Linked DNA regions of Homo sapiens. The protein of the gene in region 4 purifies or fractionates together with the protein of the main gene of each other region. This does not show direct contact. Each region holds a gene or a part of one and is shown on either strand. Other genes may lie near its edges.

Region 1 (4,408 bases), on a different chromosome or scaffold from region 4:
AGAGGAGAGGTGCGTAACTGCCTACCGGTCTGGAAGTCCCAGCGGGGAACCTTCAGATCATACATCAAAGCTAGAAAAGACACGAGTAGTCTATCAAAGCCCAAGACACAGATTCTAGACCTGAGTAGCCCATGTCCACTAGACTCTGGAGTTGTTTCTATTCAAAAGAGCTTTCCAGGCTAACGTAGTTTTTTTTTTTTTTTAAGACGGAGTTTTGCTCTTGTTGTCCAGGCTGGAGTGCAGTGGCACAATCTCGGCTTACTGCAACCTCTGCCTCCTGGGTTTAAGCGATTCTCCTGCCTCAGCCTCCCGAGTAGCTGGGATTACAGGCACGTGTCACCGTGCCACACTAATTTTTGTATTTTTAGTAGAGACAGGGTTTCTCCATGTTGGTCAGGCTGGTCTCAAACTCCTGACCTCAGGTGATCTGCCCGCCCCAGCCTCCCGAAGTGCTGGGATTACAGGCGTGAGCCACTCTGCCCGGCCCAATTTCCAGGCTAATGTAGTCTAATTTTCAAAATTACCCAGTGTATCAGGCATGCTCCAGAAGGAAAAGACAATCCTGCCAAGCTGCTATCGTCCCTCCCTGGAGCTACGTGTCACGGCATGACTCGGCCTGTATTCACATTCAGCATTCCACATTAGTAGGTAGAAATGATGGCAGAAAGGTCAGGGTCCTAAACCTTACCAAGCTTCATAGCAGAGAAGAAGGTTACTAAGTGGGACACAGGTGGTAACAAAATGTGAAAAAATGGCATTCGATTCTTCATTGTGCCTGTGTTAGGATCTCAGACCTGTTACAGACATTTCCTCCCTGATAATTAACTCACTTCTGAAGTGAAAGGGTACATATTGCAGCTTGATTAGGTGGCTCTGAAATCTGAGAAGTTATATTGTATTGTACCAATGACATTATTCACACAACAAAGCTAGGGTCAGAATTCATTTCTCTTAGGCCGGGTGTGGTGGCTCACGTCTGTAAACCCAGCACTGAGAGGTCGAGGTGGGCGGATCACGAGGTCAGGAGTTCAAGATCAGCCTGACCAATGTGGTGAAACCCTGTCTCTACTAAAAATACATAAATTAGCCAGGCATGGTGGCAGGCGCCTGTAATCCCAGCTACTCGGGAGGCTGAGGCAGGAGAATTGTTTGAACCCAGGAGGCAGAGGTTGCAGTGAGCCGAAATCACGCCACGGCACTCCAGCCTGGGCAATAGAGCAAGACTGTCTCGGAAAAAAAAAAAATTCATTTCCCTTAAGGTCTAATCTTCAACAGCAATAAGTAAAAAAAGCCAGAAGAGTGTGATCTGTGGTCCCTGATCTCACACCATCCCAAACAAAAGGCACATCAAGGCTTGGGGAGGTTGGGAGACAGGAGAAGGAAGCCAGGTGGGGTTCTCTGCATGGTGACAATCTCTCCATCTCCTAGTACTTTCGGTTCTATCATCCCCTCCCCCATTTTCTTTTCTATTTTTTTTTTATTTTTTGTTGAGATGGAATCCCTCTCTATCACCCAGGCTAGAGTGCAGTGGTGAGATCTTGGCTCACTGCAACCTCCATCTCCCGGGTTCAAGTGATTGTCCTGCCTCAGCCTGCCAAGTAGCTGGGATCACAGGCACGTACCACCACATCTGGCTAAATTTTTGTATTTTTAGTAGAGACAGGGTTTCGCCATGTTGGTCAGGCCAGACCTCCTGACCTCAAGTGATCCGCCTGCCTCAGCCTCCCAACATGCTGGGATTACAGGCTTGAGCCACTGCGCCTGGCGCCTTCCCCATTTTCTATGTGCCTGCCACTTCTATTTCATGAGAATTGGCTACCAAAAGTGTCATATCACCAAGCAGAAGCTCAAGCTCAATTATGATTTGTACAGGTTCCAAAGTAACTATGGGTAGGGAAATTTAGGCTTATAATAGTTCAACTTTAAAACAAAAAACTTTGATTTTGTATTTTATTTTTTTGAGACAGGGTCTCAGTCCCACTGCCCAGGCTGGAGTACACAGTGGCACCATCATGGCTCACTGCAGCCTCAACTTCCCCAGCTCAGGTGATTCGCCTACCTCAGCCTCCCAAGTAGCTGGGACTTCAGGTGTGTGCCACTAGGCATGGCTAATTTTTTGGTTTTGGTTTTAGTAGAGACAGGGTTTCGCTACGTTGCCTAGGCTGGTCTCAAACTCCTGACCTCAAGTGACCTACCTCCCTCAACGTCCCAAAGTGCTGGGATTACAGGCATGAGCCACCACACCCAGCCAAGTTCAACATTTTAACCAAAATATTTGCTAAAATTAAAGAACCTTAGCAGTTAAACATATTGCTGTTAGGTCCTTCATCTCCATGGATGTACATCCTCTTCCCAGGCCAAAAGTGAGCACTCAGGCATTAAAGGCCATCCAGAGTCCTCACCAACAATGTTGTTCAACTACCAAACTAACAGTTTACTTGCAACCAAGAATGGTGGTCAGAGCCAACACAGAAACTTAGTCCTGAGCATAAGTATGCCCAAAATATTTAGATACCATTTGGCAAAGTCTGAGAACAGCTCCTCAGTACAGGAAAATGAAATTACAACTTGAACCCACGTGGTTTGGTTCAATTCCTGATACAAAAGCTTTCTAAGGGCTTCCTAGAAAATAAATCAGAGATCAAGGTAGAATAACAAATTAAGATGAAGTGGCCAATCCTTCAAAGTTGAAGCAGGGCGAGAACACGGGAGTGAGAGCAGGAATGTATGTTTTGTATTTATATGGGAAGTGGCTCCCAATCTTGCTGCTGTAGGGTGGATTAATGGTGAAAGTCACTCACGGAAGCCTGAAGCTCTGAGAATAACTCGGCAAATTCTCTGACTTGGAAAGAAAAAACTAAGTGGGGAGTGAGAAAGCATTTTCTCAAAAACTAAGTGGGAGTGAGAAAGCATTCACTTCGACACAGGGTCTCTCAAGGCAGACTGCAGAAAGCACGCACTTCGACATACGGTCTCTCAAGGCAGACCGGGAAGAAGGCATTGCTTAGAATATTTATGAAGCTGCTATGTACCAACTGTAACTCCTATTCTATTTTCTTGTTCTCAGAATGAAACAAGGTCCGATGCACTAAAGAAAATGTTACGTATATATCATGAGGAGCATAAAGCCCCTTAACTCAGGCCTGAAACAGTCAAATCAAATGCCCAACTCAAAGCACTTGTTAAAGAACTGAGGAAAACTTTGCTCCTTCTGAATGACAACACGGGCCACCGAGAAGATACCTGCAACTAGGAGCAACTGCGATAAAGCTTCACTTACGCATGACTTCCATGACCCGGTGGCGCAGAAAGGTGCGGCTGCTCTGGAGGGCTCCAAAACGTTTCAGGTCCAATTCCCAAACGTTTTCTGAGGGATAACCATGTACCATCCATTCGGCAAGGTACCTATATAGACAGAGGGCACGTGTTGGGGCTCAGGTGTGAGATTTGAGAAAATTAATATTCTACAAATCGAGAACAAACAGAATCAAAAGATCCTAAATTGCCATAGACCAGCTGAATAGTTTTGGGCACTTTCCTTAACTTTTCTGGAAGAAACGAACATGGGTCTGTGTACTGCTCTCAAAAGACTACTATGAGGATTTTACCCCAGATGATAAGATTCCCTAGGAGGTATTTAACATAGAAGCCAGCCAGACACATTGGCTGATGCCTGTAATCCCAGAACTTTGGGAGGCTGAGGCAGGAGATTGCTTGAAGTCAGGAGTTTGAGACCAGCCTGGGCAACATAGTAAGACCCCGTCTCTACAGAAAAAAAAAAGTTTCAAAGTGAGCCAGGTGGCTCACACCTGTAATCCCAGCACTTTGGGAGGCCGAGGCAGACGGATCACTTGAGGTCAGGAGTTCGAAACAAGCCTGACCAATGTGGAGAAACCCTGTCTCTATTAAAAATACAAAATTAGCCAGTGTGGTGGCACACGCCTGTAATCCCAGCTACTACGGAGGCTGAGGAAGGAGAATTGCTTGAACCTGGGAGGCAGAGGTTGCAGTAAGCCTAGATCACGCCATTGCACTCCAGCCTGGGCAACAAGAGCGAAACCCCAACTCAAAAAAAAAAAAAAAAAAAAAAAAAAAATTAGCCGGCGTGGTGGCACATGCCTGTAATCCCAGCTACTCGGGAGGCTGAGGCAGGAGAATCACCTGAACCCGGGAGGCAGAGGTTGTGGTGAGCCGAGATTGTGCCATTGCACTCCAGCCTGGGCAACAAGAGCAAAACTTCGTTTCAAAAAAAAAAAAAAAAAAAAGAGCTGGGTATGGTGGCACACGCCTGCAGTTAGTTCTAGCTCTTCTGGAGTCTGATGCGGGATGATCCCTTGAGCCCAGGAACTTGCGGCTGCAGTGAGCTATGATGGTGCCACTGCACTCCAGCCTGGGTGAGAGTAAGATC
Region 2 (4,408 bases), on a different chromosome or scaffold from region 4:
TGGGAGGCTGAGGCAGGAGAATCACTTGAACCTGGGAGGCAGAGGTTGCAGTGAGCCGAGATCGTGCCACTGCACTCCAGCCTGGGCTACAGAGCGAGACCCTGTCTTAAAAAGAAAATAAAAGAAAAGACAAAGACAAGAAAAGAAAAGCTACTTTTGACCCAGCTGTTGCTTCCCAGTTTCTCCACTAACAGCCTAGACCAGCTGTCAACTCCCATATCTTGCCTAGACCTCTTGTTGCCTCCTTACTGGTGGAATCCTTCCTCCCCAATCTAACAATAACAATCTAAATAAGCTCAAGTGCCTGTCCACAGCCCCTAGCCCCTATGTGACTTACCCCCCAACCCCCATCACCTCTCCCCTTGATCGCTTTCCTCCTCAGTGCTTCAAAACCACCAGCCTCCTGTGCAGCACCCCTGGTTTCTCTTTCATGTCTGGCCCCATCTTAGTTGTCAAGTCTCAGCTCACTGTCCTTAGAAAAGCCTCTTTCTCCCTCCCTTCCTCCCTCCCTCTTTCAGCCACACGGCAAGATGACCCTCTTTTGTCTTCTAGATATTGTATTCTCTATCTGTAATTTCTTTCCTTTTCTTTTCTTTTTTTTTTTCTTTCTTTTTTTTTTTTTGAGATGGAGTTTTGCTCTGGTTGCCCAGGCTGGAGTGCAATGGCGTAGGCTCGGCTCACTGCAACCTCTGCCTCCCCGGTTCAAGCGATTCTCCTGCCTCAGCCGTCCAAGTAGCTGGGATTACAGGCACCCACCACCACACCCGACTAATTTTTGTACTTTTAGTAGAGATGAGTTTCACCACGTTGGCCAGGCTGGTCTCGAACCCCTGACCTCAAGTGATTCACCTGCCTCAGCCTCACAAAGTGCTGAGATTACAGGCGTGACCCACCGCCCCAGGCCTCTGTAATTTCTTAATGATGTCTTTTCTGCCACTACCGCCCTGCCCCCGCCTTGGGGGATCTAGGGCTCAGGGCCAATTGGGTAGAACCCCTGGAGGGAAAAGGGGTATCTAGGTTGCTGGGCTGGCCCAGAATCTGGCCACCACAATGTAGAAACTCAGGCCCTCATTTCAGCAGGCCTCCAACCCCACCGCACGCCCCATTCTGTTCTAGCTCACTGAAGCCACAGGCTGAAACAGGGGGCTACATCTCCCAGCAAGCTGTAACTTCAGAAGGCGAGGTGCCCAGAGTCCTAAACAACAATCCACAGACTATTTTCCATCATGGTATGGGGAGTTTTGTTTGTTTGCTGTTTTATTTTTTCTGAAACAGGTTCTAGCTCTGTCATCCCGGCTGGAGTACAGTGGCACGATCACGGCTCACTGCAGCCTCGACCTCCGGGCTCAAGCAATCAATCCTCCCGCCTCAGCCTCCTGAGTGGCTGAGACTACAGGCATGTGTCACCAAGCCCAGCTAATGTTTGAAATTTTTGTAGAGACGGGGGTCCTACTATGTTGCCCAGGCTGGTTTCAAACTCAATCTCCTGGGCTCAAGCGATCCTCCTGCCTCAGCCTCCCAAAGTGCTGAGATTACAGGCATGAGCCACCATGACGGCCCTGCCATCATATTCTGATCTAGGACTCCCTTTCTCTCAACGTCCAGGCCGTGGACTTCCCCAGCAAGCCCTGACTCCCGGGCAGACTACGCCAAGTCCACCGCCTAAGACTCCCTCCCCGGCACCACTGATTTACTTTCGAGCCCATTAACTAGCACGCCAGGGGTCGAGGACTTCGTTTCCCAGCATGCTCAGGAACACGAACTCCATTCCCCAGAATGCTCTGCACCTGGGTCCTACTTAGGGTTTGAAACCCTCAGGGGCACGATTTCTTCGCGGAACTCCATTTCCCAGCATCCCTCAGGAAAGAAGGCTTCCCTCCCAGCATGCTCTGGACGCCGGACTACATCTCCCAGCACGCTCTGGGCCGGCCGGCTCTCACCTGGGAAGGGTCCTTGCAGCTGCTGCAAATTCCCTAGAATTTTCTGGCTCAGTAGGTGGATAAGGCGGGTCACGACCTGGGGGCGTTGGAGGCCGGCATTTCAGTGAGACCTGGGAAGCGGCTGTCCAGGTCCCACCTCTCCCTCCTATGCCGGGGCTCCTGGGTGCCCGTTACCTGGGTCCCACCCCCGAGAGCCCCCGCCCTCACTCTCTCGCTTCGGCCCCTCCCTCGACCCCGCCCCTCTGTAAGCCCCGCCCACACACTAGGCCCGGCCCCCACCCCCCCGGAGTCCCGCCTCCGCCTCTCTGCCCCGCCCACAACAGGCCGCACCTGCGGGTACCGGCGTTTGATGTGACCCAAGGTGCCCTCGGGAAGCTTGGCCAGCTCCGTGTCGCGCACCGCGTGCACCGTCGTGGCTCGCGGCTGCCGGGTCAGTGCCTCCACCTGGGGGGCCGCGTGCATGATTGGGGCTGCTTGGGTGGGGAATGAGGAGGCCGAAGATGGGTGGAAAGGGGGCTGTACTGCCCCATCTAGGGCTCCCCTGCAATGGGGGTGTAGGGAAGCAAGCCTCGCTCGCTACCCATTAGAGCTCTGGGGAGAGGGAGAGGACAGGGATCCACGACAGGCGGAATCCCCTTTTTCCAACGAAATGAGGTCTGGGCGGGGAGTGGACTGGGTGACCTCAGAGGTCGGGAGCTGCATTCACCACTCCCTGGATTACCCGGGATGATGTGTGTGAGTTGTCGAGGGACTGGCCTGGAAAAGGCCAGAGGTCAGTGGGTGGGGGTCGCGCTCACCACGCCGATGAGGTCGCCGCGGCCGTACTCGCCCACCAGCTCCTTCTTGCCACTGCCTCGCTGGATCACGCTACGCAGCCGCCCATTGAGCACGATGTAAGTGCAGTCGGAGCGGTCGCCCTGCCTGAGTGGGCGTGGAGGTCAGCAAGGTCTGACCACCCCCAGGTCCCCACCCCTAGGCCGGGCCTGAGCAGCGCGGTGGGAGCTGCACCTGTACAGCGCGCGTCCCGCCTCCACTGCAGTCCAGTCGATGGCGAAGTCCATCTGGCGCACGAAGGGCGACATCCTGGCTGCCACCGTGTGCGCCGCACTCAGCACCACACTGGGCTGTGCGCGCATGATCCTGCAGGAACAGACTTGGGATGAAAGAGGAAGGCCTCAAAACCGTCCTACACCGGCGCTGGGAGGCCAGATCTGGGGGCTCCCTTCTGCTCTTCCAGGAGTGAGGTTGAGGGATGGGGTTCTGGCCACTCCCACGGGTTGGGGTCCTCCGAGTGCCACCCACACTCCAACTTCGGGCTGTCATACTCATAGAAGTCGGACTTGGAGATCCGCAGGAAGGTGCAGTCGCGTTGGGCTCGCAGTGTGAAGATGAGAGGTTCGCCAGTGAGCACCGCCAGCTGCCCCACCAGTTCCCCGGGCTGCGCTACGAACAGGCACACGTCCTCCGCCTTGTCGATCATGCGCTGGTACACGTGCAGGCAGCCCCAGAGCACGAAGTGCAGGCTCACGTCCTGTGCGGGCAGGGGATGTGATGAACACAGAACCCGGACAGCGTGGACCCCAGCTCAGGTCAACATGCCCCCACAGGAAAAAATTAAAGAAGAAAGGAAGGGTTAAGAAAAATATGAAGGCGCAGGGCGCGGTGGCTCACGGCTGTAATCCCAGCGCTTTGGGAGGCCAGGCAGGGGGGATCACTTGAGGCCAGGAGTTCGGCACCAGCCTGGCCAACGTGGCGAAACCTGTCTCTACTAAAATAAAAAAATTAGCTGGGCGTCGTGGCACATGTCTGTAATTCCAGCTACTCAGGAAGCTGAGGCAAGAGAATTGCCTGAACCTGGAAGGCTGAGGTTGCAGTGAGCTGAGATCATGCCATTGCACTCCAGCCTGGGCGACAGAGTGAGACACTGTCTTTAAAAAAAAAAAGAAGAAGAAGGCCAGGCGCGGTGGCTCACGCCTGTAATCCCAGAACTTTGGGAGGCCGAGGCAGGCGGATCAAGAGGTCAGGAGATCGAGACCATCCTGGCTAATACAGTGAAACCCCGTCTCTACTGAAAATACAAAAAATTAGCCGGGTGTGGTGGCGGGCGCCTGTAGTCCCAGCTACTTGGGAGGCTGAGGCAGGAGAATGGCGTGAAACCGGGAGGCGGAGCTTGCAATGAGCCAAGATCGCGCCACTGCACTCCAGCGTGGGCGACAGAGCGAGACTCCGTCTCAAAAAAAAAAAAAGAAAAAAAAGAAACATGAAGGAGAGAATAAAGACTTTGGATATAAGCACCATCTATATATAAATATAAATAAATATAAAAATATTTTTTAGCCGGGCGCGATGGCTCATGCCTGTAATCCCAACACTTTGGGAGGCCTGAGGCAGGCGGATCACGAGGTCAGGAGATCGAGACCATCCTGGCTAACACGGTGAAACCACGTCTCTACTAAAAGTACAAAAAA
Region 3 (4,301 bases), on a different chromosome or scaffold from region 4:
AGTGAAACCCTGTCTCTACTAAAAATACAAAAAATTAGCCAGGCGTGGTGGCGGGCGCCTGTAGTCCCTGCTACTCGGGAGGCTGAGGCAGGAGAATGGCGTGAACCCGGGAGGCAGAGCTTGCAGTGAGCCGAGATCGTGCCACTGCACTCCAGCCTGGGCCACAGAGCGAGACTCCATCTCAAAAAAAAAAAAAAAAAAAGACTAAGACATTGTCACAGCGGGCGCCTGTAGTCCCAGCTACTCGGGAGGCTGAGGCAGGAGAATGGCGTGAACCCGGGAGGCAGAGCTTGCAGTGAGCCGAGATCGTGCCACTGCACTCCAGCCTGGGCCACAAAGCGAGACTCCATCTCAAAAAAAAAAGACTAAGACATTGTCACAGCTAAGAGGAGACTACAGGCACTTGACAACTAGGTTGGATCCTGGAACAGAAAAAAGATAGTAAAGAAAACAATAGGCTGGGTATGACGGCTCACGCCTGTAATCTCAGCACTTTGGGAGGCCGAGGTGAGCAGATCACTTGAGATCAGGAGTTCAAGGCCAGCCTGGCCAACATGGTGAAACCCCATCTCTACTAAAAATACAAAAATTAGCTGGGCGTGGTGGCGGGCACCTGTAATCCCAGCCACTCGGGAGGCCAAGGCAAGCGAATCACTTGAACCCGGGAGGTGGAGGTTGCAGTAAGCTGAGATGTGACACTGCACTCCAGTCTGGGCGACAGAGCAAAACCCCATCTCAAAAAAAAAAAAAGAACAGACACTGGAATGAGACCACCAGGGTCAAATCCTGGTTCTATCACTTAGTAGCTGTGTGACCATGACAAGTTGCTTAACCTCTTTGTGCCTCAGTTTCCCCACTGGTAAAATGGAAACAATGATAAGGGTACCTAAATGTGATAATATAGAGATTATCTTTTTAAAAAGTCCATGTATTTTAGATACATAGTCAAGTATTTGCAGATAAAATAACAAGGTATCTGGGATTTACTTTAAGGTAATTACAGGGGAAGAATTAACAGACAGATGAATAACAAGGAAAAGTTCATCGTTAACCTAAGAGAATGAAAATGGAAGGTAAAGATGTAATACATTCAAAAGCAGTACAAAAGTAGAAGGGAAATGAGGGTGACTTAGACTATAACGCATAATAGAATGAGATCTGGACTAGGAATCAAGATCAAATAAGCCCAGCCCTACAAGCTGCATTCTCTTTATTTGCAACTACTTTATATTTTATTACTATGTTTTCCACTACCCAATAAAAAGATCTATATATTCACCCAAAGAATAAAAGTAGTAACTATCTCAAAGGGGTGTTGTGGGGATTAAATAACTTTTGATAAGTCAGGTGCTTAGAGTATTAATTGTTACATAGTTAACACTACACAAGTGTCAGTTGTTAGCATCATCCTTCACTGCTATCTCCCACCAATTAGTACTCACACAGACACTGTGGACTCTGAATAAATATTAGAAAATTCGTTGAATGTTTAATAAATTCTCATCCCCACACATAGGTCATAATTATATTCTACAATACTGTATTTCTAGAAGGAATTTCCTTTTCTTTCGGTCAACAAAAAAACAAATGTACCCTACTGTTTTCCACTGGTAAACTAAATTGTATTATCTCTGGTATACATAACCCTACAATATCATCAAAGCACATAGAAGGATGGTTTTATCCATGTCAGCTTCCTTAGGACAATTACTTTAACCAGACACCCGGAACTGCCATACCTGGGAGGTTTGTAGTAAGAAAGCCCCTCTAACAATCGCCGCCAATGTTTATTCAGTTCTGCCTCAATCTGACTCTGGAAAAGAACAAGGTAATTATACAAATGCAGTATTTTTTTTTTTTTTTGAGACAGAGTCTCACTCTATCACCCAGGCTGGAGTGCAGTGGCACCAACTTGGCTGACTGCAACCTCCGCCTCCCAGGTTCAAGTGATTCTCGAGCCTCAGCCTCCCGAGTAGCTGGAATTACAGGTGCCAGCCACCACACCCAGCTAATTATTGTATTTTTAGTAGAGATGGAGTTTCACCATGTTGGCTAGGCTGATCTCGAACTCCCCACCTCAAGTGATCTGCCTGCCTTGGCCTCCCAAAGTGCTGGGATTACAGGCGTGAGCCAAGGCACCCGACCGCAAATGCAGTTTTTTGTGCTTTCTTTTTTTTTTTTTTTTTTGAGACGGAGTCTCACTCTGTTACCCAGGATGGAGTGCAGTGGCGCAATCTTGGCTCACTGCAACCTCCGCCTCCTGGGTTCAAGCAATTCTCCTACCTCAGCCTCCTGAGCAGATGGGACTACAGGCGCACGCCACCATGCCAGTCAGTTTTTTTTGTATTTTTAGTAGAGATGGGGTTTCACCATATTGTCCAAGCTGGTCTTGAACTCCTGAACTCGTGATCTGCCCATGTCAGCAAAGTGCAGGGATTACAGGTGTGAGCCACTGCGCCCGGCCCAAATGCAGTTTTATTAATAATCAGACTCGGCCAGGCATGGTGGCTCAGGCCTGTAATCCTAGCACTTTGGGAGGCCGAAGCGGGCGGATCCCCTAGGGTTGGGAGTTGGAGACCAGCCTGACCAACATGGAGAAACCCTGTCTCTACTAAAAAATACAAAATTAGCTGGGCGTGGTGGTGTATGCCTGTAATCCCAGCTACTCGGGAGGCTGAGGCAGGAGAATCACTTGAACCTGGGAGGCAGAGGTTGTGGTGAGCCGAGATTGCACCAATGCACTCTAGCCAGGACAACAAGCACGAAACTCCGTCTCAAAAAAAAAAAAAAAAAATCAGATTCCAGAATCACACTAAGTATTACACATTCCTTTGAGTGTTTTTAATATGCATTTTTCCCCAGAGTTGAAATCATTTTGAATACAGAATTCTGTAACCTTCTTTTCTTTGCTTAACATTATAACATAATGACTTAACCTTATTATGAAAGTCTTGATAAACATACTTTCAAGTTGCTGCATAATACTTGTATCAAGTTGGTAGATCATAATTCATTTACCATTCCTCTAATGTTTGATATACTTAAGCTGACTGTAATTATTTAATAATATAAATGATGTTGTGGTGAAGTTTTCTTTGTTGTTTTTTGAGACAGGGTCCTGTTCTGTCACCCAGGCTGGAGTGCAGTGATGCAATCATGGCTCACTGCAGGCTTGATATCCTGAGCTTAAGCGATCTTTCCACCACAGCCTCCTGAGTAGCTGGAACTACTAATACAAGCATATGCCACCAAGCCTGACTTTTTTTTTTTTTTTTTTTTGAGATGGAGTCTCGCTTTGTCACCCAGGCTGGAGTACAGTTGCGCGATCTCGACTCACTGCAACCTCCACTTCCGGGTTCAAGCGAATCTCCTGCCTCAGCCTCCCGAGTAGCTGGGATTACAGGCATGCACCACCACACCGGGCTAATTTTGTATTTTTAGTAGAGACGGGGTTTCTCCATGTTGAGGCTGGTCACGAACTCCTGACCTCAGGTGATCCGCCCGCCTCGGCCTCCCAAAGTGCTGGGATTACAGGCGTGAGCCACCATGCCTGGCCAAGAATCTTTCTTAGGTTGAGGTAGAAGAATGGTATTTGCACCCCTACTCTCAGCAGCCAAGCAATGAACACAGGTATCTTTTCATAAAAGGAATCAATGAAATACAAAGGTAGATTTAAAAGACTTCAGCAGCTAGGCTAGGTAGTCTCATTTCAGCAAAGAAGTAGGGAATGCGTAATGTTTATAAAGCTTTTTGCTTTTTTGAGCTGGGGTCTCGATGTGTCTCCCAGGCTAGAGTTCACTGCAGCCTCAACCTCCCAGGATCAAGCAATCCTCCCACCTTGGACTCCTAAGTAGCTGGGACTACAGACATGCACCACCATGCCTGGCTAATTTTTTAAAAAATTTTTTGTAGAGACGGGGTCTTGCTATCTTGCCAGGGTTGGCCTTGAGCTTGTGCACTCAATTGATCCTTCTGCCTTGGCCTTCCAAAGTGCTGGGGTTACAGGCATGAGCCACTGCATCTGACCACGTTTATAAAGTTTTAGGAACAAAAAAAAAGTGTTTATACCAGGCACAGTGGCTCATGCCTGCAATCCAAGCACTTTGGGAGACTGAGGTGGGCAGATCACCTGAGGCCAGGAATTCAAGACCAGCCTGGCCAACATGGTGAAACCCCATCTCTACTAAAAATACAAAAATTAGCCGGGCGTGGTGGCATGCATCTGTAATCCCCAGCTCCTTGAGAGGCTAAGGCAGGAATCACTTGAACCCAGGAGACAGAGGTTGCAGTGAGCCAAGATC
Region 4 (4,408 bases):
AGTTGCAAAGACGACAGACGTTTGCTGGCCAAGTGAGTCTTGACCTTTTTCCTGGTCTGTTTGTTCAGAAATTGATGAATAACTGCCACCATAAAGGTCTTTGGATTGGTGTGGCCCTTTCTGTTTCCTTAACACATTCTCTTGGCAGGGTTCATGCAGTGTGGTGCTTGCTTTCCCTGGTTGGGGGTCTGAGTCTGTGATCCATCAAGCACTGGCTAAGGGCCTGCTGGGTGCTTGGTATGTGCAGATGATACATACACGAATGAGGCAAGGCCCCTGCCCTTAAGGCCTCTAGTTGGGTGTAGGGGAAAATCAAGTGAATACAAGAGAGCTGTAAGCACCGAGGGAGGCAACGGTAAGGAGGGAGTGGTGAACAGGAAGCCGATTGGCCTTGGGCTTAGGGAGTTTATAAATCCAACAGACATGGAGGGCGCACTCAAGTGGGAACCTGGGAGGACTGCAGCTGCCTCAGGTCCCCGCAGGGAGATCGTGGAGTGGGGTCAGGAATGCTCTGAAGAAGGCAGGACTTGGGCATGGAGGAACAGATGGACTTTCGCTGAATGCTTTCGATGAACGAGGCACTGCGGTCAGCACTTCACGGTACATTATTTCATTTATTCGTCACAACCACCAATGAGCATGTTACTGTTTAAATCATCATTCTAGGCCGGGCGCAGTGGCTCACGCCTGTGATCACAGCACTTTGGGAGGCTGAGGTGGGCGGATCATGAGGTCAGGAAATCGAGACTGTCCTGGCTAACACGGTAAAACCCCGTCTCTACTAAAAGTACAAAATATTAGCTGGGCGTGGTGGCGGGCGCCTGTAGTCCCAGCTACTCGGAAGGCTGAGGCAGGAGAATAGCATGAACCCGGGAAGCGGAGCTTGCAGTGAGCGGAGATCGCACCACTGCACTCCAGCCTGGGCAACAGGGCAAGACTCCATCTCAAAAAAATAAAATAAAATAAAATAAAATAAAAATAAATCATCATTCTATAGGTGAAGAAATTGGGACTCAGGTTAAATGACTTGTTCAAGATTGTGCAGTTAGCAAACGGCAGACCAGTTATTTGAGTTCATGCTTGTCACACTCCTAAGTCTAAGAACGCGGCTCTTAACTCATCTGCCCGGCTGTCTCCCTGGAGGCGGGAGGCCATTGTGAAAGCAGGGTTATAGACAGTGGGGTAGAGGTGTGCAGGGTGGAAGGGTGGCAGAGGCCAAGCAGGGCCCTGGCAGTGCTGGCCTGGGGTATGTGAGTCCAGTCTAGAACAGTGGGAGACATGTTGAAGAGGAACTGTGACAAGACCTACTACCAGGAGGAATGTATTGTGAAGAATCAAAGCTGACTCACCAGGTTTCTAGCCTTTCTTTCTTTCTTTCTTTTTTTTTTTTGTCGGAGTTTGGAATGTATTGTGAAGAATCAAAGCTGACTCACCAGGTTTCTAGCCTTTCTTTCTTTCTTTCTTTCTTTCTTTCTTTCTTTCTTTCTTTCTTTCTTTCTTTCCTTTCTTCCTTTTCTTTCTTCCTTCCTTCCTTCCTTCCTTCCTTCCTTCCTTCCTTCCTTTCCTTCTTTCCTTCTTTCTTTCTTTTTTTTGACGGAGTTTCACTCTGTTGCCAGGCTGGAGTGCAGTGGCGTGATCTCGGCTCACTGCAACCTCCGCCTCCAGGGTTCAAGTGATTCTCCTGACTCAGCCTCCCGAGTAGCTGGGACTACAGGTGCGTGCCATCAACGCCCAGCTAATTTTTTGTATTTTTAGTAGAGATGGACTTTCGCCATGTTGGCCAGGATGGTCTCGATCTTCTGACCTCGTGATCCGCCCGCCTTGGCCTTCCAAAGTGCTGGGATTACAGGCGTGAGCTACCATGCCCAGTCTCTAGCCTTTCTTACCGTGTGCTGTGGACAGTTAATGGTGTAACTTTAAAACTTGGGAGGAGGGGAGTTCTGTAGTCAGAAGTTTGAGAAATGCCTGACTAATCCAAATTAAACAGGTTTCTCTGTTGTAGGCCGCCTCAGAACCTTTAGTGCTGAGGTGCAATGATTCCTTACAGGGTGTTATAGCATGTAACGTACTTTGGGAAAAGCTATGTTGATGAGGGAGATTGATTATTCCTTATAGGCCAGAGCTAGGTCTGTTCATCCCACAGTCCCCTCATTTTAGAATAAGACTGTCAGGAAATATGAGGCATTGAAGTGGTGTGTGAATGGATGACTGAAAGAATGGCTAAAAGGCAGTTCAGAGGGAAAGGCAGAGGATAAGTCCCAGAAATCACCTGTATTCTAGGCAGTGGTAAAACCCAGGTGTACTTCTGCTTCATGGGGCAAGACAGGGGTCTCTCCCTGTTGACATGCGGAGTTAAAGGTGATGGGGACATATTGGTAGGAAGGTTCTCTGGGCAGTCGGAGAGGCACGGAATGGAAACTCAGGTGAGAAGTTGGCTGGAAGGTGGATTTGGGAATACCTTATACAGACTGATCTCCACAGCCAAGGATGTGGTTGATTCTTGACTAGAGTCAACACCAGTGCTTCAACCCCAGCTGCACGTTAGAATCATCTGGGAAACTTGAGATATTCATGCTCTGGTCCCAACTCTATATATTCTAATTTAATTAGTCTAGGTCAGTGGTTCCCAAACTTGTGTGCCCATTGGAGTCACCTGAGGACTCTTTTAAACATTACGAAGTCCAAGTCTCCCCCAGACCAATTAATCTCATTCACTGTGAGTGGGACACAGGCATCAGTATTTTTTAATTTTTTAATTTGTTTTTTAGAGACAGGGTCTTGCTCTGTTGCCCAGGCAGGAGTGCAGTGGTGCACAATCATAGTTCACTGCAGCCTTGAACTCCTGGACTCAGGCAGTCTCCCTGCCTCAGCCTCCCAAGTAGCTGGGACTACAGGTGCTCACCACCATGCCTGGCTAATTAAAAAAAATTTTTTTTTTTTGTAGAGACAGGGGTCTTGCTGTGTTGCCAAGGCTGGTCTCAAATTCCTGGGCTCAAGCAATCCTACCTCTGTCTCCCAAAGTGTTGAGATGACAGGTATGAGCCACCATGCCTGGCCAGGCATCAGTATTTTTTTGAAGCTCCCAGGTGAATCCAATGTGCAGACAACTTTGGGTACTGCTGACATAGGCATTTTTTAAAAAACTCCCCTGATTTTATTTTATTTAATTAATTAATTTTATTTTTTTGAGACGGAATCTTGCTCTGTCGCCCAGGCTGGGGTGCAGTGGCGCGATCTCGGCTCACTGCAAGCTCCACCTCCCGGGTTCATGCCATTCTCCTGCTTCAGCCTCCCAAGTAGCTGGGACTACAGGCGCCCGCCACCACGCCCAGCTAATTTTTTGTATTTTTAGTAGAGACGGAGTTTCACCGTGTTAGCCGGGATGGTCTCGATCTCCTGACCTCGTGATCCACCCGCCTCGGCCTCCCAAAGTGCTAGGATTACAGGCGAGAGCCACTGCGTCCAGCCAACTCCCCTGATTTTAATGTGCAGGCAGGATTGAGACTAACTACTCTAGTCTAATGGTTCTGAAACTTGAGCAGGCTTCAAAATCACTTGGAGGCCTTGTTGAAACTCAAGTTTCAAGTGTGGGCTGCATTCCCAGAGTTTCTGATTCAGTAGGTCTTGGGGAGCGGAGCTGTGAATTTGCATTTCTAGCTAGTCCTTAAAGGTTGCTGATGCACCTGGTCTGGGGACCACACTGGGGTTCCTCTGATCTCAATGGGAAGAATGGAATCAGGAGTGGTAGAGGCTGGATACTTATTAAACAGAGATGGGGTGAGCACAATTATCTCAAGAAGCCACAGGGCTAGAGTGGTAACCAGAGTGTTTTGACTGGCAGGAACCTGTGGGTATAATCATGGGGAGTCCCTGGAATTAAAATGGTTGGGGGCCAGGCACGGTGGCTCATGCCTATAATCCCAGCACTTTGGGAGGCCAAGGCGAGTGGGTCACCTGAGGTCAGGAGTTTGAGACCAGCCTGGCCAACATGGCGAAACCCCATCTCTACTAAAAATACAAAAATTAGCCAGGCGTGGTGGTGGGTGCCTATAATCCCAGCTACTCGGGAGGCTGAGGCAGGAGAATTGTTTGAACCCGAGAGGCGGAGGTTGCAGTGAGCCGAGAGCACACCACTGCACTCCAGCCTGGTGACAGAGCGAGACTCCGTCTCAAAAAGAAAAAAAAAATGGATGGGATGCTTACTAAAGTGCTGTTCGGCATATACAGAGAGGTCATGGGAGGTCATCAAGAACCATCTCAAGGACTGGAACCTAGGAAGGTGATTGTAGGGCTAGGAAAGGTACGCATGTGATCAGGCATTGGTACAGGCCGTGGCATAGAAGAAACTTCAGCCTAGAGATAGGGCAGGGCATGGAGGGTAGGTGGTGACCTGTTTCATGTGGTTGAG
Region 5 (4,208 bases), about 23 Mb from region 4:
TTACATACCTTATTTCCTTTAGTCTTTACAACAACCCTTTGAGGTGAACACTTATTACCACCTTATAAGTGGGGAAACCGAGATTGAGGAGCTAAGTAGTCTGCCCAAGGTGGCATAGCTTGTAAGGGCGAGAGTCAGGATTCTGCCCCAGACCAGCTGACTCCAGGGCCTCTGCTTCACGGTAAAATGGCGGTGAGTCAGGTGCTTACGCCTCCAGCTCTTGCTGACCCTTCCCACTATTGCTTTTCTTCTTCCCATTCAGAACTGAACTTTGGTCTAGCTTGGGTTGCATCTTGAGTTTTGGTTTGGTTTGTTTCCTCAGCTTTATGGCCGGCACAAGGAGTATCTCAGCAGCCTCGTAGGCACCGACTTTGAGATGGTGAGTAGCTTGGCTTCCTGCAGCACTGTGAGCTGTGTTTAGCCGGAGCATTCTGACTGTGGATGAGTTACACTACCTCTCTTAAAGGCCCAAAGGTATACTCTACAGTGTGAAAAGGAAGTCAAAGAATAGCACATATAGTCCTTGTTATGTGTTTTGCAACATTGCATGTTGATAGAGAACTGTTAATGCTAAGAAAAAGGTCTGAAAGGCTATGCACATGCTGTGGGTGGCTTTCTCTGGGGAGGGTGGGATTAGATGTGGTAGAAGGGTAGTGGGTGGTGAGAGGGATATATTAGGGATTTTTGCTTTTTATTCCCTAAACTTAGGTAGCTTTGAATTTTTATCAGTTGTAATGTATTTAGGTATTACTTTATAATTAATTTAAAAAATAAATATAAGGATGAAAAATGTCTTCTTCACCTTTCATGTGGATATTTTTTCAAAATACCCCATAGAGAGGCAGGGGTGCCATTTCTGTTTGTCACATATTTTGGCTCTTAAAAAATATAGGCCTGATGCGGTGGCGCATGACTATAATCCCAGCACTTTGTGAGGCCAAGGTGGGAGGATCACTTGAAGCCAGGAGTTTGAGAGCAGCCTGGGCAACATAGTGAGACCACATCCCTACAAAAAAAAAAAAAAAAATTAGCAAGGCATGGTGATACATACCTGTAGTCCCAGCTACTCATGATGCTGAGGCAGCAGGATTGCTTGAGCCTAGAAGTTTGAGTTTGCATTGAGCTATGATCACACCACTGCATTCCAGCCTGGACAACAGATCAAGACCCTGTCTGAAAAAAAAAGAAAGTGGTTTAGTTCAGCTATTCTGTTGTGCTGTTCTTTGTCTTTTCTCATTCTAAGAGTTCTATCTCTAGACCTGGAAACAAGGATAGAATTACTTCCTGGTCTCCCTCTCTTTCTCTGAAAAATTAACCTTCACTATTTCCATATTGCATAAGCAACAGATATTCAGTATTTAAAAGTTAGATAAGACATGCACAAATAATTAAAAAAGAAAACTCCCTGGTTTCTTGACCTCAGCCATCTAAAGGGAAGAGGGCGTTCTGGCTTCCCATTGCACACCACAGGACAGTTGCTGTTGCTTGAATAATTTCCCATAGTGCATTGTCCTCACTGCCATTTAAATTATGTACTTTCCCCCTACATTGTGAATCTTAGGAATGAAGGAAACAGATCTGTGGAGAAGTGTCAGGGTGGGGAGAAAGTGCAGTAGTGACACCCAGGGCCTGACCCCTAGTGGCAGGTCGTCTGCAGATTTGTAGATGGGGCTGGAGGAGAAGTGCCAATTCCCTCCAGGCCTGCTGATCCTTTCCCACTTCTCTTCACCTTAGACTGTCCCAGGTGCCCTCCGGCTCTTTGTAAATGGAGAGGTCGGTAAGTGTCTTGCTAGCATAGATCTCTTGATGCTTAGGCACGTGCCTAGATGGAGCTGTGAATAGTCTCCTCCACTCTGGTAGAGGCCTTGTCTGCTGTACTTGGGAAACTCAGTGGTGAGTCTTTCCTGGAAACGCAGAGGGTTCCTGGCCCTCAAAAGACTTGCTCTCAGGGTGTGTAGGCCCCTCAGGATTGGGTTGGGTGCTAAGGGTGGTAGGAGAAAAAGCTAAAATAGCTTCCTGTTTTCTCTCGTAGTTTCAGCCCAAGGCTATGAGTATGACAATCTCTACGTCCACTTCTTTGTAGAATTGCCAACTGCTCGTAAGTAATATTCTTAAGTCTCTCCTTTTATACCCATTCAGACAGATCTAGAGGCATTTGGTCAGGCTTCCTTTCCCACTCCTCTGCTGAAACTGTTACTGTTCTTTTCAAGGTCATAGATCACATCCACTTTACCAAACCCAGTGGAGACTTCCCTGCTTTCACCTCGCTTGACCTTCCTGAAGCATTTTCCAGAGCCCACTGTGCTGCATGACACACTTCTCTGGCTTCTGGCTCCACACTTCTCTCTCCTATCTCGCTGGTGGCCCCTCATCCTTCTTGGGTGATGCCTTCCCTTCTGTTGATCTTAAACCGTGAGAGTACCCACAGCTAAGCCAAGGCCTTCTGTTACTCTCTGTCTGCAGTCTTCCTGGGCAACGTCATCCATCCTATGGCTTAAATACCATCAATACGTCTCAGACTCCCAGGTTTCTGCCTCTAGCCTTAACCTTTTCCCTGGACTCCAGACTCATATCCAGTTACCTCTTTTGTCATTTCTGTCTAACATGACCAAAAAGAACTCTTGATTCCTCCTCTTCCCTCAAACCTCTCCTCCCTGGTCTTCCCCATCCTAACAGAATGGCAGTGTCATCTACTGAGTTGTTGATGCCAAAAACCTAGGGAACATCCTTGATCCCTCACTTTCCCTAGCTCCCTATAGCCAGCCAATCTGTCAACAGTTCCTGTCCGTTCTGTCTTCAAAAGCTGTTGTGAACCTATTTGTTCTCTCCAGCACCCTACACCAAGCCACCACCATCTCTTGTCTAGGCCAGTGCATTCAACTTCTGATGTATCCCCCTGCTTCCTGCCTTGCTCCCATTTGCCGTTGATTTGCCACAGACACCAAAGCCAAGTTGAGCTTTAAAAAATGTAAACAAGTTATGTCCCTTTTGAGCTGAAAACCCCAACAGCTTCCCCTCCCACTTAGAGTAAAATGTAAACTTGATACCCTGAATGAGCTGGCCCCTGCCTATCTCTTCCATACAACCTTCCAGTCATTCTTCCCAGCCAGGTTCATTCCCACCTTGTAGCCTTTTAAGGGCCGTTTCCTTTGTCTGAAACCCTTTCTGCCATATCTTAGCATGGCTGGTTCTTTCTGAGTTTAGGTCTCAGCCTGTGTCGCCTCTGAGAGGCCTTCTCTTACCACCCAGTCTAAATGAGCCTCCCAATCACTCAGTCCCTTCCCCGTTTTGTTTTTAGTATAGCACTCATCACTACCCAATAGTCTCTTGTTGGTTTGGTTTTTGTCTGTCTCCCTGCTTCCCCCAGAATGTCAGCTCCATGAGAGATGGGGATCTTTTCTATCTAGTTACCAAGATACCCCTAAGATATACTAGCACATAGCAGGCACTCAGTAAATGGTAAATGAATGATTGATTGTGTGAATAAATGAATAAAGAAACTGTCCGCCCCGTCTGGGAAGTGAGGAGCGCCTCTGCCCGGCCGCCCCATCTGGGAGGTGTACCCAACAGCTCCGAAGAGACAGCGACCATTGAGAATGGGCCATGATGACGATGGCGGTTTTGTCAAAAAGAAAAGGGGGAAATGTGGGGAAAAGAAAGAGAGATCAGATTGTTACTGTGTCTGTGTAGAAAGAAGTAGACATAGGAGACTCCATTTTGTTCTGTACTAAGAAAAATTCTTCTGCCTTGGGATGCTGTTAATCTATAACCTTACCCCCAACCCCGTGCTCTCTGAAACATGTGCTGTGTCAACTCAAGGTTAAATGGATTAAGGGCGGTGCAAGATGTGCTTTGTTAAACAGGTGCTTGAAGGCAGCATGCTCCTTAAGAGTCATCACCACTCCCTAATCTCAAGTACCCAGGGACACAAACACTGTGGAAGGCCGCAGGGACCTCTGCCTAGGAGAACCAGAGACCTTTGTTCACGTGTTTATCTGCTGACCTTCTCTCCACTATTATCCTATGACCCTGCCACATCCCCCTCTCCGAGAAACACCCAAGAATGATCAATAAATACAAAAAAAAAAAAGAAAAGAAAAAAGAAACTGTCTTTTTCTGAATGACTTGCTTTCCTCCCAGGCGAGCTTACTATATTTGGTCTTTGGCTTTCAGACTGGTCAAGCCCAGCATTCCAGCAGCTCTCAGGA
Region 6 (4,408 bases), on a different chromosome or scaffold from region 4:
CTCTTTTGTAAAATGGGCCAATGTCCACCTCACAGCAGAGTTGCGGGGACCAAATTTCTCCCTGCAGCCCATGTTCAACCAGGCATTAAAAACAACACAGTGAAAGAAGCCGGTCACAGGGTCTGCCTATCACCCATTTACACGAGATGTCCAGGAGAGACATATACACAGAGGCAGAAAGTGGATTGGCGGTTGCCTGGGGCTGGGGGACCAGTGGTGGCTAAGGGGTGGTGCTTCTTTTTGGTGAGATAAAAGGTTTTGAAATAGACTGTGGCGGGGGATGTCCACCTCTGTGAATAGAAGAAAACCTGCTGAATCGTATCCTGGAAGTGGGTGAACAGAACGGCATGTAATTACATCTCAGTAAAGCTGTTAAAAGAGAAAACCTCCACAGTTGAGAGCTCTCTGTGGTGGGGGAGTAGTCAGGGCTGTCAACGCATAAGACTGGCCCTGAGCTAATAACTACACAGGAATTCTTTCTTCTCTTTACTTTTGCGTATATTTGACCTTTTCTATAATTAAAAAGCTAGAAAAGCAAAAAACTAACTAGACCTAGATCTAGGAAAACCAGCCCCTCCTTTCTTCCCTAGGCACCAATGATCTCCAGGCCCCAAAGAGACGGGGACTTGGCTTTACAAGCGGTGGGCTGCGGGCAGAGCTGAGGGAGCCGTCTGGGCTGTGCACAGGCGCGATTTTCCCCACTCCCCGCCAAGAGGCGCTAAGAGCTAACTCAGGACCATGCTCCTTCTGGTCCAGTTCATAGGTGTGTGATGGGCCCCAGGCCCCACGCACGCGGCACGGCCCGAACGGCAGGGAGATCTCCGCCCAAGAGCGAGAAAACCTCCAGGGCTTCATACAGCCCGGTCCTCACCTCTGCCAGCCACACGCAGCAGTGGAGCGGAGCCCTCGAGTCCCCTAACGATCTGGCCTCCATGACCACCTGGGAGTGGAATAGGAGTAACTTCCTACAGCTCTCGGCATCTTTACCAGAGATGTGACCACAGCCCTCCAGCCGCCGAGGGCGTGGGAGGACCACCCAACTCTGGGTCTGCAGAAGGCACTGCAGACGAGAGCCCTCCCACCCCTTTGCCCCCACATGGGCTGTGCACGTGGGGCAGGGACTACAGCGATAAGGGGATATTCCCTGCGCAACCCATGCTTAGGGCGCGGCAGGCTGTGCACATCAGGGTCTTCCCAACAACCCCACCAAGCAGCACAGAAATGATTGTCCACTTTTACCAATGAGGAAGTGAAGCACAGACAGGCTGAGTAACTTGCCCAAAGTGACACAGCGGGTAAGGGGAGAGCCTCCATTTAAACCTGGGCATGGGGGCTGCCCTCCAGGTCGTCCTATGCCGAGGGACTTTTAGGGGTGGGACTCGTCCATGGGAAGTGAGGAAGGCGATGGACCTGCAGCGTGTCCACGATGAACCAGGGTCAGGGGCTTCCCTGCCTCCCCTCACCTCACCCCGGCCCTCGGCACAGCCTAGGAGCACTTGCTGAGCTTGGCCTCCCCCAGGCGGGGGCCCTGCCCTGCCCTCAGCCATATTATCCCAAACCACTACAGCTGCTCCCACCCCAGCGGCCACCAGGCCATCGAGCATTCCCAATGCCACAGGCCGAGGGCTGTGACTGCTTCTCTCGAGGTCAGTTAATACACAGCCTGAGGCGGGCACGAGCCCAGGTGCAGGTCATTCTCAGGGTCGGCTCCAGGCTGAGGGAGAATCTGGTGCCCAGCAACGGGCCCCAAGGCGGCTCTGATGTGGCCCTGCTCTTTAATATTTGCAGCAAACTCATCAGCCAGGCTCTGCCCTCAGACAAAGCAAATGCTGTCTGATGATGGATGGATGTGTGGGAGCCTGAGAGCCTGTGAGGGCCCCACTGCTCTTCCCGTCTCCCGGGATGGTAGTATCTGCTGGATGTTCCAGGCTCTGAGACAGAGTCCAGACCAGCCCAGGAGCCTCAACGTCACTGCGTGGAGTGCCCGCCCATAAGCGCTGCCCTCCCAAGGTGCGGGCGGCCTTCCTCCCTGAGTGCCCAGGGGCGCCCTTCCAGGGTGAAGGTTTATGAAGATGGCAGTCAAGGGCAGGGATGTCCCAGGTGCCTGAGGACCCAGGCTCACCACCCAGGGGGAGGTGGAACAAAGGGCCGCGGGGCGGTGTCTGTCCCATGGTAGGTTACGGGCTCACTGCTGGTGGGCAGCCAGCCTCCCCAGGTCATGGCTTTGCTAAATAGTTCTCCTACCCAAGTGACAAAGGGGCCACCCTGTCCCGCTGGGTGAGAAGCTGACAGAGCAAGACAGATGTCTCCAGCACAAGGCCCCACCCACGGCCCGGCTGCTGCCTCCTCGCAGCCATCTCCCTCCACCCAGCAAAGTAAATAAATGCATACGCTGTTGGCTGTTGCTGTTTTTAATGGAGGGTTGGGGGTGGGTGGAGGACGAAAGAACGCTCTGCGGGAAGACAGATGTCTCTCTCAAGTCCCCGAGGCTGCTGGTGGGGGAAGGACTGGAGCCTCTGGGGCACTGGCCAGTGGTGCCAGCTGCCGGGCACCCACCTGTGGCCTCAGGCAGGCTCCTCCGAGCCTCTGGGGCTCCCCAAGAATATGCCAGAGAGAAAGGATGAGGTGGCAAAGGGCAGCTCAGGGCACATGACCCCCATGTATCCCGGGCACCTGCCTGATGGAAGGGATGGGGCAGCATGGCCAGGAGCAGGACTCTGAGTCCCACGGGCCCAGCTGTGTGGCCCAGGGCCAGGTTTGTTCACCTGGAAACAGGAACTCAACAAAGTGACATGGCAAAGTGCTTCCTATGGTGCCGGTGCACGTGAGCTCCTACGTGTGTGTGCACATGTGTCTGCGGTCCCTGGTGCATGTGTGTGTGTCTGTGTGGTGGTCCTGCTGTCCTCAGAAATACCTGAGGCCAAGTGCAGCCTGGGAACTGCTCCAAGGACTGTCCTGCTGGTGTGTGGCTGCCCCAAAGGAGGGCCAGATGGCCCGGGGTCACCTTAACGCAGCGGGCCCTTTAGGATGTCACACCCACACATGGGGACGCAGGGGTGGGGAGGGTCCCAAGGTAGCAGGTTGACAGTACGCTCCCTCCCTGGTGCTCAGGGAGCACCGCCTGGCACTCAGCACCAAGCCCCTGGCTCCCCTGCAGCCTAGTGGCTGCCTGGGCCTGGGGTCTGCATCTTTTTCCTCCCTCCACTTAGTGCTTCCTGCCACTGCTGTCTTCTGGGCTCTCTTCCACTGGAGGGGAAGCCTGTGGCTTTCAGAGCCAAGTGCTGCAAACCAAATGTTTTCCACTTTGCATTTTCTGTGCTTGGAGAACACACATTTGGAACATGGTATGGAGGACGAGTGACTAAGTTCCACCCTCGGTAAAATCAATAGCTTGTCCTTTTTGTAATTAATGAATGGCGTAAAAAGGGTTTCCAGTGGTGATATAACAACTTCCTGTAAGCCTGAGGGACACAGACCTTCTTAATTAGGAAGCCACGTAGCATGCCCTCTCCCTGTTATAACAGGAGACAAGAGGGGTCTTGGGATAATCACAAAAGCAATGAAAACATCTCATTATTGAGGACACTCAGCACGGCCGGGCGAGGGGCCTTGTGCATGGAGAAGCCAGCAATGATGAGCTTAGCACCAGGACCACCAGCCTCACAAGCACCTGTGCCCCCAGGGTCTTGCTCCACCTGAGGACCTTGCCTTAGCGGAGCCTGTCCGCCATCCGCTGTGGCCTCTCCGCCATCCGCTGTGGCCTCTCCCAGCAGCTGCAGGCCTGGGTTAATTACCTCCTCCTCCACACCCACCCAGGACTGCACCAGCCTCCAGCAGAAAGCAGCCGGAAGTCTCAAATAATGAGATCATTGTGGAGAGTCATAAACACCCTCACCAGGGGCTCCCCTCACCCAGCAGCACCGGCTCAGACTCCGAAAGAACTGCCCCCAAGTGGGGCCAAGAAAGGAGGCGTAAAGGCCAACGGGAGGCTGCTGGCGGAGGCAGGGAGATCGTCACCACAAAGGGGAGAAAAGGCATTGGGACTTGGGCCTGGGTGGTGGCCTCTCAGGAGCCCCTCCTGCAGGCACGGAGTGCCGTGGTCCCGGGACGCTCGGCTCACAGCTCTTGTGCCGGAGTGTGGACATGGCGGTCCCCACCCTACAACACCAATAATGATCATAGCTGTCACCTGCTGAGTGCCCACTGTGGGCTAGGCCTGGGCCAGAAGCCGCGTGCTCATGGCACACCTCTGCTGTGCGTGTGCCCACTCTGTGCTATGCCCTGTGGAGCCCTTCCTGTCCTGCTGGAGGCCAGCACCATGCCTGGACATAGCAGGGGCACAGGAGGTGTTTGCTGGATGGATGAATGAATGAATGAATGAATGATCAAACAAATGAAGATCAAAAAG
Region 7 (4,408 bases), on a different chromosome or scaffold from region 4:
GGGTCTCACTAGGTTGCCCAGGCTGGTCTCAAACTCCTGGGCTCAAGCAGTCCGCCTGCTAACCTCCCAAAGTGCTGAGATTACAGGCGTGAGCCACTGCACATGGCCAGTACGATCATTTCTATTCTGGTCCAGGAAAATAACTCTAACTGGAATTTTTTTCACTTTATCTATTTCATATCAGTCAAGGTATTTCATATTAGGTCCCACTCAAAGATGGCATGATGGATTCTTTAAATGCATAGTTTTGCCAACTCAAGAGAAAAGGAAACCTTAGAGGCTTGATTCTAAATGCCCATTCTGGGAAAGTAGTATTTAGCATGAAGCAACCATAATTCATGCTTGCCATTCAGACAGGAAGTGGTTAGATTAATCCTTCAGCAGATGTTTTCTGAAAGCTGAAATAACTTATCATGCATTACCACTCCTATAGCTTGATCACAACTACAAAGGGTAGGCCAGGGTCACATACATCTTCATCTTATTCCTTTCTTTCAAAAAAGTGTGATTAACAAGGTGATAAACTGAAGCAGTAACAGCTTCTATACAGAAACATGTTTTAAAATATTAGTTGTTGGCACCAGGCATCAAACAATGTTGGCAAGCTCTGAAAGCAAACAAAGAAATTACTTTTAACAAAAGCAACAATTTTTATTATCTTGCTTTATATTTAATGGAGTAGAACTATAAAGATTCTTAACTTTGAAAGCAGAAATATAAGTTGGATAGTAGTTGCAGATCTTTAATACCATTTTCAATTTCATTTATGAGCTGCTACATTATAAATGAGATGCTCTAAAATAATAATCGCTTTTGTTGTTGTTGTTATAGAACAATGAAAATTCCTGTTAGGAACACAAGTTGCTGTTTATATTTGCTTGTTCTCTTAAATAGTATGAGAAGAAGTAAGGTGGAGCTGTTGGGAAAGCCCATCGTGGACCTTTGGAGATTATCTTCTTGGTTCAGTCATCTCCACCACAGATTTTTAAGAGTGTGATTTCATAGTCTCCAGAAGTATCCGACTGCAAAGAATAAAATCAATGAAGAACAAATACAGTATAAATAATGGGAGACCATAAATGAATCAAATCCTATAGCACTAGGGAATTCACCTGGGTGTGAGACTCATGAGCTATACCATTTAGTAAAACATACCTGCAATTCCATCATTCATTCATACCTGAGTGTAATTACGTTCTGACCAGCATCTTCTTCACTGTAAGTAATATTTAGATTCTTCCTGATATACTGCAGTTAAATTTCAATTTTGGTTTAATAAAATAAGATTGCATCACTTACATAATATTGATTTCTATAAAAACTTCAAATTTTAGTTTTAATAATATTTATCGAACACTTGCTATTCAAAAGGCTTAATGTGTATTAACTACTTTAACCCTTTTAAAAGCTCTCTGCAATAGGTACTATACGTATCCCCCATTTAACAGATAAGTAAAATGAGAAAGACAGGTTAGGAAACTTGCCTCAAATCTTATCGAGAATAAGTGACAAAAGCAGGATTTGAATCCCTATATCCTGGCTCCTTAATACCCTGCTACACTGCCTAACTTAGGAAAGTGAAATGAACCACATTTTTAAAGAATATGTTTATCAGTTCCTTTTCCCAAGGCCAACCAAAAATAGACTGTTGTCCAGAAAAGATACTACGTGAGGTTGAGGCTTAAAGGGCAAAGATACCAAGTTTGTAACGCAAAAGACTTCACAGGAGGTAAAACTTGGCTTTCAACCTGGATTGTGTAAGATGCTCACATTATTTTTATTTTATTTGAGGTAACCCAACCAGTGAGCTCTTCTTATCACTTAAGTTTCACATTTGGAATGGCTGTTACTGGGGTGAATATTAGAGAAAGTGGTAATATAAAGGAAGTCTCAGAGAAGGCTCATTTAGTGAAGAAGTTAAGCATTACTTTCATAGTAAGACACAATAGGCCTTTATATATATTTTTCTGTTTTCTTTATTTCTTGTTCATTTGTCTGTTTCACAAAATATATGACAATATTCTTCGTTTTTATATAGATTTTAGTTCTTATGCTATTGGTTTTCCTGTCTTGCTCTGCAATAGCAGAGCTGACAAGTCAACAATGCTCCAGCTTTGTATTAAAAGAGCTCCTTCTAGACATCTCTGATCAGAGTTGTAAACAATTAGGCGTTCTACCAGTTAGTCAAGAAAATACATCCAAGTAACTCAAAGTATATTTACACCGCTAATGACTTACTTGACCTCTCCACATGTCTTACATGGCTCAAAGACATCTCAAACTCAATACATGTAAAACCAAACTCATAAACCTCCCCCCACTCCCCCAAAAGAAAAGGAAACAAACAAACAAACAAACAACCTAAAACCTGATCCTCTTGCAAGGAATGGCGCCACTGTCTGTTTTCCAAGTTAGGAACTTGAGTGTCATCCTTGCTATCTTCCTTTCCTCACACCAAGATATTATACCAAGTCCCTTAAGTTTCAACTCCTAAATATCTTTTGAGCCCTTCTTATTCTCCAGAATAAGAAGATCTTACAGGGATCTTTTCATGATCCTGATACTAACTCTTCAAGAGCTCATGCCCAGAACTCTTCAATGGCTTCCCCTTACTCTTAAGCTAAAGCCAAAATTCCTTAAACATTGCCAAAAAGGTCCTGCATGATCTGGCCCCCACATCCTCATTTTTCATTATGCTTCCTCCACCATGAGGCCTTTCCATTTGTCATTTCTTTTATTAGAATGTTCTACTGGCTCCCTTACCTCCATACATTTTGCCTTATTAATATCTACTTATTTTCCAGATCTGAATCATGACTTTCTCATAGAAGCCTTTCCTCTAAGTCAAGTCCTACTATTGTAGGATCTTTTAGCACAATGTCACTTTCCTTTACATTTAACATAGTTGTAATTCCATAAGGGCAGAAAATGTCTTCCCCCACCCTACCCCCTTTGCTTATAATTGTAACCCTGAGCCTAGCACATAATATGCATTTGATAATATTTTTAATTGAATGAGTGAATTCGCTGATCTCAAAGCTCTCTTTCAACTGAACTCATCTTGCTACTTGGATTTTATTTCTCAATATTCCCCAAGGTAGACCCTCTAATCAAACAAATGCCTTATTACTTCTTTCCCTCTTGCTTCTTCCCATATCTGTCTCTAGAGCATTTACTTTTAAGACCCTATTGATCTGGGGTCTTAAAGGTAAATGCTCCAGCAGAGCACCTGGCCCACAGGAGACACTCAACACATGCTTGTTGACCTGAAAGGCAGGCTCAAGACCCATTTCTCTAACCCCAAACTTCTTTTCTTCTCAATTCCGATAGTACTAGCTCTATATTCAACAATCTAGTATTTAATTGTCTGTTGTTTCAATTATTATCTTCTAATTGTTTCTTCATACCTACCTCAAGTCTCCACATAGATTATGAGTTGATTGTGAGTGGCTACTATATTTTCCCATAAAAAGCTTGGAATTGTGCTATTTATTAAATAAATACAGAATTTGTCTATGAAGGAAAACTACCAAAAAATATAATTTCATCTAAATTTTCCATAATATCTTCTTATAAAGTAGTAAGAGGTACACATTGGTTTTTCACCTCTGTTCTTCCTTGCCTTCTCCTTCCCACCGGTTACCCCCTGAGAAAGGTGTCAATGGACAAAGAAATGTCTAAACAATAGGTGGAAGGAAGAAAACAGGCAGGATGACAGGCTGAGATGATATGCAAAATGGAACTCTATCCCATGAATTTCAGAAACAACCATCTAAAAAGATCCTGTTCTTCAATAGCAAAAATGTAATGAGATTACTTAATAATATGTGTTAGGTGGTAGAAATAAAGAAATCTTGTACTATTTCAAACTGCAAACTGAAGTTTTCAGTGATGGATTTTTCTTTTCTATCAAACTACAAATAGTTTAAATGTTTTCTAATACAATAAGCCTCAATTACCCAGACCACTGGGGAACGGAGAGCCACTGGTTAATTTAATTTTCTGGTTTGCTGAGGGTGAACTGAAAGCCCTCTTTATGTCTCAACCTTGTTACTGACAATCTTTAGAAAATGTGTGAGTCTATTTTTCTGCCTTAGTAGCTACAACATGGTTAATGTTATTGAATCTTCCTCTGATGATTGAAACTATTGTGATGTGTCAGGACTGATTCAAATAGAATTGAGTGTGAGCAGTTGATGCAATTTGTGCTAAGTCCCAGGCACAGTCTGAGAATTGCCTTTTTGAGTAAGTTCCTGATTTCAACTTATGCATGCATCTCAGCATCTCTTTCTGTAAAAGTTTAGTGCAAAAACAAAAACTCTGATTAAAAAGAGAGAGAGAGAGATTTTAGTGAATGAATCTAGTTGACTGATTGATGTTCATTCATTCATTCATTCATTCAAAGGCC

What was found.
Region 1: the proteins of RAD51D (region 4) and PDPR purify together in Homo sapiens (co-immunoprecipitation; 2 studies listed by BioGRID and IntAct, with this or other methods). This does not show direct contact.
Region 2: the proteins of RAD51D (region 4) and PNPLA6 purify together in Homo sapiens (affinity purification with mass spectrometry; one study listed by BioGRID and IntAct). This does not show direct contact.
Region 3: the proteins of RAD51D (region 4) and NUP188 purify together in Homo sapiens (affinity purification with mass spectrometry; one study listed by BioGRID and IntAct). This does not show direct contact.
Region 5: the proteins of RAD51D (region 4) and MKS1 purify together in Homo sapiens (affinity purification with mass spectrometry; one large-scale study listed by BioGRID and IntAct). This does not show direct contact.
Region 6: the proteins of RAD51D (region 4) and ACOT7 purify together in Homo sapiens (affinity purification with mass spectrometry; one large-scale study listed by BioGRID and IntAct). This does not show direct contact.
Region 7: the proteins of RAD51D (region 4) and ANXA3 purify together in Homo sapiens (affinity purification with mass spectrometry; one study listed by BioGRID and IntAct). This does not show direct contact.

The regions. Positions count from the first base shown.
Region 1 is NC_000016.10:70,137,896-70,142,303, reverse strand, and holds part of PDPR (pyruvate dehydrogenase phosphatase regulatory subunit, mitochondrial isoform 1 precursor), read right to left. Parts: intron 4,218-4,408; exon of another isoform or gene 4,120-4,217; intron 3,406-4,119; coding exon 3,281-3,405; intron 71-3,280; coding exon 1-70. UniProt on the Homo sapiens protein: Decreases the sensitivity of PDP1 to magnesium ions, and this inhibition is reversed by the polyamine spermine.
Region 2 is NC_000019.10:7,548,970-7,553,377, reverse strand, and holds part of PNPLA6 (patatin-like phospholipase domain-containing protein 6), read right to left. Parts: intron 3,472-4,408; coding exon 3,266-3,471; intron 3,081-3,265; coding exon 2,949-3,080; intron 2,862-2,948; coding exon 2,738-2,861; intron 2,385-2,737; coding exon 2,271-2,384; intron 2,017-2,270; coding exon 1,941-2,016; intron 1-1,940. UniProt on the Homo sapiens protein: Phospholipase B that deacylates intracellular phosphatidylcholine (PtdCho), generating glycerophosphocholine (GroPtdCho). This deacylation occurs at both sn-2 and sn-1 positions of PtdCho.
Region 3 is NC_000009.12:128,950,285-128,954,585, reverse strand, and holds part of NUP188 (nucleoporin NUP188), read right to left. Parts: intron 1,814-4,301; coding exon 1,740-1,813; intron 1-1,739. UniProt on the Homo sapiens protein: Component of the nuclear pore complex (NPC), a complex required for the trafficking across the nuclear envelope. Required for proper protein transport into the nucleus.
Region 4 is NC_000017.11:35,113,051-35,117,458, reverse strand, and holds part of RAD51D (DNA repair protein RAD51 homolog 4), read left to right. Parts: intron 1-421; coding exon of another isoform or gene 422-600; intron 601-4,408. UniProt on the Homo sapiens protein: Involved in the homologous recombination repair (HRR) pathway of double-stranded DNA breaks arising during DNA replication or induced by DNA-damaging agents. Bind to single-stranded DNA (ssDNA) and has DNA-dependent ATPase activity.
Region 5 is NC_000017.11:58,208,549-58,212,756, reverse strand, and holds part of MKS1 (tectonic-like complex member MKS1), read left to right. Parts: intron 1-322; coding exon 323-379; intron 380-1,734; coding exon 1,735-1,777; intron 1,778-2,032; coding exon 2,033-2,098; intron 2,099-4,173; coding exon 4,174-4,208. UniProt on the Homo sapiens protein: Component of the tectonic-like complex, a complex localized at the transition zone of primary cilia and acting as a barrier that prevents diffusion of transmembrane proteins between the cilia and plasma membranes.
Region 6 is NC_000001.11:6,267,882-6,272,289, forward strand, and holds part of ACOT7 (cytosolic acyl coenzyme A thioester hydrolase), read right to left. Parts: intron 1-4,408. UniProt on the Homo sapiens protein: Catalyzes the hydrolysis of acyl-CoAs into free fatty acids and coenzyme A (CoASH), regulating their respective intracellular levels.
Region 7 is NC_000004.12:78,606,670-78,611,077, reverse strand, and holds the end of ANXA3 (annexin A3), read right to left. Parts: intron 1,023-4,408; coding exon 963-1,022; 3' UTR 631-962; downstream 1-630. UniProt on the Homo sapiens protein: Inhibitor of phospholipase A2, also possesses anti-coagulant properties. Also cleaves the cyclic bond of inositol 1,2-cyclic phosphate to form inositol 1-phosphate.